Homo sapiens: one gene and its partner. The protein of the gene in region 1 interacts with the protein of each later gene in a biochemical or structural test. Each region holds a gene or a part of one and is shown in the gene's direction. Other genes may lie near its edges.

Region 1 (3,815 bases):
TCTCTGACTCATCACCTGGATAAGAACTTTTATCTGGCCCCAAGTCATAGAAGTTCTCATACATATCCTATGAAAATCTTTATGATTTTAGCTACATTTTATCAGATGTGACTATATCCACTTCAGTATTCTTATGCTGTGTGTGGCATTTTTCTATTCATTCACTTTCAATCAATCTGCCTTTATATTTAAAGTGTGTCTATTATAGACAGTATATATGTGAGTGTTGCTTTTTAAGACATTCTGACAATCTGTGTCTTTTAATCTACCTCATTAACTAATATTGATACTTCCAATTCAAACTCAGAACTATAGGGTTTTTACTTACCTCTTCTATGTTGCATCTGGCCATCATTTCTTCCATACCTAAACTTTTATTTTTCAAGGACCTGCTAAGAGCTGTTAATGTTGAAGGTCTGATGAGAATGGGAATTTCCTTCCCTTAGCCTTTTTTTTTTCTTTCTAGATGGGCAAAGGATTTTTTTTTTCTCTTCCATTAAAGACCAGATATTCTATTACAGTATGTCTTGGTGTTCGTTTCTCTAGATAGATTTTCTCAGGTATGTGGTATGGCTTTTCTTTACATAGTTTCAGATCTTTTATTTCAGAAAAGTTTCTCAAATTATACTTTTTATTATTCGTTCTTTTCTTTTTATGTATATTGAAACTTTGCCTCTTCTAAATTTGTTACTTGCTCCATTTCTTTAATACGATATATGTAAAATTTACCATTTTAACCATTTTAAGTGTACAGTTTTGTGGCATTAAGTTCATTCGCCATGTTATGCAGCCATCACCATTGTCCATTTCCAGAACATTTTTTGTCATCTTAAATAAGCTCTTGTACCCATTAAACTATGTCTATCTGCCCCCAAACCCCTGATAACTGTCACTTTCTTTTGAATCCTATTAAAAAATATATATCTTCTTTTTTTATTAACTTTTTTTCTCCTTTCATCTTCTATTTTTCTTAAGGCAGGAGTTGGAAACTTTCTGTAAATGGCCAGATAGTAAATATTTTAGGCTTTGTAGCCATATGGTCCCTCTCATAGCTACTCAGTTTTGCTTTTATACTGTGAAAGTTTCCATAGACTATATGTAAATGAATGAGTGTGATTGTGTTCCAGTAAAATTTTATTTATGAGAATAGGTGATGGGCCAGATTTGGTGTATGGGTTGTAGTTTGCTGACCTCTGTTATAAGGCATTATATGTGGCATTTTTTCCATTTTGTGTTCTTTCTTTTGTAGTCCTTTCTTGAAATTATTTTTTCTTTTATTTTGAATTATTTTCTGAACTCTCTCCTTTTATTTCTAACTCAGGCACATGCTATACGTTCATATCTTGTATCATTCTCGTATTCTCTTTTAGCTAGTGTTAAAATAATTGATTATAATTTTGTCTGCTTTGTGGGCATTTTTTTCTGTTAGGTATTAATTGTCTGCGGGGATGTTATTCTCCAAATTCTTCTTGTAAGAATTTTGTATGTATTTGACCTCAGTTACTTTCGTTGCTCATTTTTACAGAAATTAATTACTAAATAATTTCAAGGATAAAAATAAAGGTCTGAGATAGTTAAGGTAATCCCCCCTGTCCCTTTTTGTTGTGCTACACCTGCAGCTCTGGCCTAGAATAGATCAAGTCTCTCAGTAAGGTCTGCAGGATCATCTTTTACAGTAGTAGCATTTAAATTATGAAACATCATCATTTTATACCTCTGTTTATATAACCTATGAGACATTTTTTCAGGAACCTTAACCGGAGACATTGTGCTAAGGGCATTTTATAGATAAAGTCTCTTCCTGATAGATTACTATTTAGTCTTTTTGGTAAGTGTAGTCCAGTCACCTGTAAAGCATTCCCTACCCCATCAATGAATTGAATAGGTCACAGGCCAGGTGTTCTTTCCTGACGGGAAGTGATTCTTTGACAGTTAACAGGCCAGAGAAATACATTGGGAGGATAGGAGGCATATCATCAAAGGTCGAGTTGTGAGCATAAATATGTTAAAAAAAAAAATCTCAAGCTTAGAATCCAGAAGAAAAGTAATCAAGGAATGTGAATAATTCTGAGAAAATAAATTTTATTGTAATGTTAGGTTTGGTTTTGGAAAGGAATAAACATGAGCTCTGTGATGACATGAGGGAGAAAACACTATAGTAGTTTAGTCTTTAATATTTTTAACAGCCTCCTTTTGTGTCATAGACAAAGAATCTTTGGGTAGCTTACTATAAAATATTGCAGTAGATAAAATTGAAGGCAGTTGCTTCTTACCTTTTTATTTTTCCCCATGTCATTGTCCTTGAAGCTACTTTGGCTTATGTTTATTCTTCTGATAGCTAAGTTTTGGTGTAGCCCTGCTCTTGAGGCACCTAATACCATGCATCATTAATAGATACTTATAGTAAGAATTGAATAGGATTAGTTAAGATAAGATGGGTTGGAGTCTGAGGGCTAGGTGCAGCCTCCCCTTACGGGGCTTAATAAAACCAATGAAACATACACGAGAAAGAAACATTCAGAAATGGACTTTCAGTTTCTTGGTGAATAAAAAGCATTATATCTTCAAGAAAAAATGAGTAGGGTGGGTTTCCTAGGGATTTCTACTAAAGCCTAGGAGCTCAGGATAACCCCGGGGCTCATTAAAAAAAAAAAATCACTTTGATTTCAAGTAATTGAGGAAAGTTTTAGGTGTTTTGTTTTTGTGTGCCCGTTGTTTTTCTTTTAAGGCTTCATCAGATGTCTAAGTTTGCTTTCACCAGAGCGAGTTACTGAGTTCTCTTCTCGAATCTTGTTTTGCCAGTTTGTTCAGGTATCTGTTTATAGAATTAAAGCAGCGTGAGGGTAAACTTTTTTTTAAGCTGTTTTTTGGAGTGTGTCAGCTCCCCATTCAATTTAGACAAGTTATTTATTTATTTATTTATTTTGGTTTTGGAAGAGGGAAAATAACGTGATGTAAAATTTTTTCTCTATCCCTTTTGCCTTTTCAGTAGAACAAACTAAACTGCTGGTAGGTGGCAGATGTTTGGACTTGTTTATTTTTTCTTCTTTGGTATATTTTCTTTTAAAGTGAGGAAGCATTTGGTAGTTAGCAGATGATTTCCATGAACTACAAGTCCAAACTGAACAAAATTTGTTTTAAATTTACTGATTGACTCAAAAAACCTTAAAGCTATAGTCTCTGTGTCATTAGTTCAAAAATAAACTAAACCAGCCAGGCGTGGTGGCTCACGCCTGTAATCCCAGCACTTTGGGAGGGCGGATCACAAGGTCAGGAGATGGAGGCCATCCTGGCTAGCACAGTGAAACCCCGTCTCTACTAAAAATACACACACACAAAATTAGCCTGGCGTGGTGGCGGGCGCCTGTTGTCCCAGCTACTCGGGAGGCTGAGGCAGGAGAATGGCGTGAACCCCGGAGGCAGAGCTTGCAGTGAGCCGAGATCACGCCACTGCACTCCAGCCTGGGTGACAGAGCAAGACTCCGTCTCAAAAAAAATAAAAATAAATAAAAATAAAAATAAACTAAACTCCCTGATGCCTTGTTAAAGTGTGTGTATACACACTTTTTTGTGTCTACATGTATATAACTTATTATATATGTCAAATTATATGTTGACATATATATTATATACATAGTAAGTAGACATTGAAAAGTTCTGATGCCCTCATTCTGATAATACTCATCAACCGTAGAAACCATTTTGACATTCTCATCAGTCATGTTAATAAGATGTGCAGGTCTCCTCTTCCAAATGCTTGGGTTATTCTCATGTTGACTGTGGAAATTTGGTATTTTCAAAAGAAATGACATAGA
Region 2 (3,815 bases), on another chromosome or scaffold:
TCCTACTTTATCAATGAGAAAATACACTGAGAAACTGCCTCAATGTCAAATACTAAGAATCAGAGCCAGGGTTTGAACCCAGATCTAACTTCAAAGCCAGTATCCTTAGCTTATCTTCTCTTCCCGCCACCCGCACGCCTAGGCGCAGAATCGAAAACCTCAGCCCCCAGAATGTATCATTTGGCAGCTGAGAAGAAGAATGGAAAGGCTTGAAACTCTGAGATTCAAACTGGGATATCGTAGACCCTGGAGCAGGACACTGCATGTAGCTGAGGGCTCTCTAGAGTCCCTAGCACGGAGCTTGGAAGGGATGCACTTGGCCTGTGTGGTTTAATGAGCGACCTTTGCCCTCTCTCTCCTGCAGGTCTCCCATGTCCGTATGCAGGGGATCCTCTTACTGGTCTTTGCCAAGTATCAGCATTTGCCCTATATCCAGATTCTGTCTACTAAATCCACCCCCACTGGCCTGTTTGGGTACTGGGTAAGGACTGAGCTATTGTCTGAGTCGTGAGCTGGGAAGGGCTGGGAACTGTGGAGCTGGGCAAAAGAAAAAGGAAGTGAAAGGAATCTTGGTCCTCTGTCCAGCCCAATGCATGTTTGTTCTTTTGCCTCAGAGTGGGCTTGCTATCCCTGAGGCCAGGCGAGGCGAGCTGGGCTCTGTGCATGGAGAGATCACCCTGGGAAGCTTAGTTACTGTCCCTAGGAGACCCTGCAGGAAGTGAGACTGTCTGCCCTCAGGTCCAGGATGTGGAAAGAGGGGTGTGTCCAACCCGAGTAGCTTCCCACTCTTCTGTTGACCTGTTCTACCAGGGGAACAAAGGTGGAGTCAACATCTGCCTGAAGCTTTATGGCTACTATGTCAGCATCATCAACTGCCACCTGCCTCCCCACATTTCCAACAATTACCAGCGGCTGGAGCACTTTGACCGGATCCTGGAGATGCAGAATTGTGAGGGGCGAGACATCCCAAACATCCTGGACCACGAGTGAGCCTGGGTCTGGCAGACCGTTCCCCGCCCTCTGCCCCACGCTAACCCCCACTAACCCCCACGAGTGAGCCTGGGTCTGCAGACCGCTCCCCGCCCTCTGCCCCACGCTGACCCCCACGAGTGAGCCTGGGTCTGCAGACTGTTCCCCGCCCTCTGCCCCACGCTGACCGCCACGAGTGAGCCTGGGTCTGCAGACTGTTCCCCGCCCTCTGCCCCACGCTGACCCCCACGAGTGAGCCTGGGTCTGCAGACCGTTCCCCGCCCTCTGCCCCACGCTGACCGCCACGAGTGAGCCTGGGTCTGCAGACCGTTCCCCGCCCTCTGCCCCACGCTGACCCCCACGAGTGAGCCTGGGTCTGCAGACTGTTCCCCGCCCTCTGCCCCAGCTGACCGCCACGAGTGAGCCTGGGTCTGCAGACTGTTCCCCGCCCTCTGCCCCACGCTAACCCAAGCCAGCATCCTCTGCTCCATCACGGATCCCCCAGCCAGTGTCGTCAGTGTTCTGGCTCCCACCCTCTCCCTGACCCTTCCCTGGTGCCCATCTGCTGTCTCCCCTTGCTTTGCCTGCCTGGGGTCCCCTTCCTCCAGCCCGTCTGTCTTGCTTAGAAACCCTGAACACTTGGGAACAGGTCAAGGACCTTGTGGCTCCTGAGGTCACCAGGAGGGCTTCTCAGCCTTTCCTCGTGACCAGTTAAGGAGAGGAAGGAAGGGCCACAGCCTGCTCTGTGTTTGCCAGAGCAGGCTCTTTGGTAGGTCTCTCCGGTTTGAATGGTGGTTTAGGAGCCATGAGAACAGTTCCAGAGGACCCACGCGTGCCCTGGCGTCTCACTTGCCCCTCAGGTTTTCTGTGCCCCAGCAGCCCTTGGGTTGAGCAGGCTGAGCCACCTGGTGATCTCCCTTCCCCGACTTCATCACAAATCCTCAGGCTGCCCTCCTTTTTTTCTGAAGCCTCATTATCTGGTTTGGAGACATGAACTTTCGGATCGAGGACTTTGGGTTGCACTTTGTTCGGGAATCCATTAAAAATCGGTGCTACGGTGGCCTGTGGGAGAAGGACCAGGTATCCAGTGAGGGGAGGGTCCCAGGGGGTGATCTGAGCCCACGGTGGGGGCCATGTGAGCTGTGCAGAGTGTTGCTAGATGCCCTCGCTGCTGTTTTCTTTTGCCCAGGTCTGGTGGGGGAGGCTGTCTAGCAGGGCTTCGCATCCAGGGGTGAGGCAGCCACGCCTGATCTTCACATGGAAAAGCCAGGGTAACAGACCCTGGATGTGCTTTAGAATAGAGAGTCAGATACAAAGCATGAAATGAATTATTTAAAAAAGAAGAATAGGGGCCGGGCACGGTGGCTTATGCCTGTAATTCCAGCACTCTGGGAGGCCGAGGTGGGTGGATCACCTGAGGTCGGGGGTTTGAGACCAGCCTGACCAACTTGGAGAAACCTCATCTCTACTAAAAATACAAAAAAAAATTCGCCGGGCGTGGTGGCACGTGCCTGTAATCCCAGCTACTCGGGAGGCTGAGGTAGGGGAATCGCTTGAACCCGGGAGGCAGAGGTTGCAGTGAGCAGAGATAGCGCCATTGCACTCCAGCCTGGGCAACAAAAGCAAAACTCCATCTCAAAAAAAAAAAAAGAAGAAGAATAGGGAACCAGAAGGGCTTTGCACCAGGTACCATCATGCGTCAGCCCATCGTGTCCCTGTCGTCTTTCCCATCCCCAGCCTCGTTTCCCTCTTGGAGGGTGAGGTGCCCCTTTGGAGAACCCTGGCTTCCCCAGGTTCCCCTCTGACACATGTCTGCTAGTGATCTCCCCTAGAGATGGAATTCCAAGTTGGGTCCCTGCAGTCTAAGGACTGGGAAACGGCAGACAGCTGCCTCCCCTGGGCCTTGGTAATGTTTCCGAAAGGATTCGCCTGCTTTCTGGTGGGAGTGGGCTGCTGAGTAGTCACTGGGGCAGTGAGGAATTGGAGTGGCATTGCTTGACTCTTGCCCCATTTGTGACGGCATGTGCTGATCCCTTGAATGGAGTGTGGTACTGGGCCACTGGGTCGAGACTACTGGGAGACGGGGACTATGACTTTGTCTGCAGCTCAGCATTGCCAAGAAACATGACCCGCTGCTCCGGGAGTTCCAGGAGGGCCGCCTACTCTTCCCGCCCACCTACAAGTTTGATAGGAACTCCAACGACTATGACACCAGGTGAGGAGGGAGTGGGGGGCCAGAAGGTCTAGGAAGTCAGGTTACACTGACCCTGCTGGCATGGGAACTGTCTCAGAATAGAAGTGTTAGGGGGGGCAGGAATTGGTCTAGTCATCCCCTCTCCAGAGTGGCACCTCCTGTCCACTTCATGAGGCGCTGACTCGGGGAGCCGTCCCAGATCTCGAGAGAGTGGGAGGAAAGCCAGTGCCAGCAAGGGCAGGAGAGGTGTGTAGGGGGTGGGGGTGTTACAGATAGAACCAGAGGAGAGGGTGGAGCAGCTGCCTCCTGACCTAGGAGGGACTGCACTTCAGCTTCGGGAAACCCCAGACCTTCTGGTCCCCAAACGGGGCAGAAAGCTTGGCCCAGCCAGTTACTGGTATTAAGGACGCCTGCCCCAGCCTGTGAATGGGTCAGGTCTTGTGTGAGAAGGTGAAGTAGTAGGTAGAGAGTTTCATCAGGATCAGTGTAGAGATCATGAGTCTGGTAGTTAGAAGCACGGCTCTGTCTTATTTTAGCCAAAGCGTTTAGGCCTTGATTTTGTCAGCTATAAGGTGTGGATGAGAAGAGCACACACCTCATGAGGCTGAGGACTGAAGGAGGCCGTCACCCAGTAACCATGGGAGAGAACGGC

Evidence for each region.
Region 2: the proteins of TNKS (region 1) and INPP5K interact in a test that uses a peptide from one of them, tested with the Homo sapiens proteins (one large-scale study listed by BioGRID and IntAct).

Annotation. Positions count from the first base shown.
Region 1 is NC_000008.11:9,562,368-9,566,182, forward strand, and holds part of TNKS (poly [ADP-ribose] polymerase tankyrase-1), read left to right. Parts: intron 1-3,815.
Region 2 is NC_000017.11:1,506,349-1,510,163, reverse strand, and holds part of INPP5K (inositol polyphosphate 5-phosphatase K), read left to right. Parts: intron 1-364; coding exon 365-481; intron 482-810; coding exon 811-986; intron 987-1,937; coding exon 1,938-2,049; intron 2,050-3,074; coding exon 3,075-3,184; intron 3,185-3,815. UniProt on the Homo sapiens protein: Inositol 5-phosphatase which acts on inositol 1,4,5-trisphosphate, inositol 1,3,4,5-tetrakisphosphate, phosphatidylinositol 4,5-bisphosphate and phosphatidylinositol 3,4,5-trisphosphate.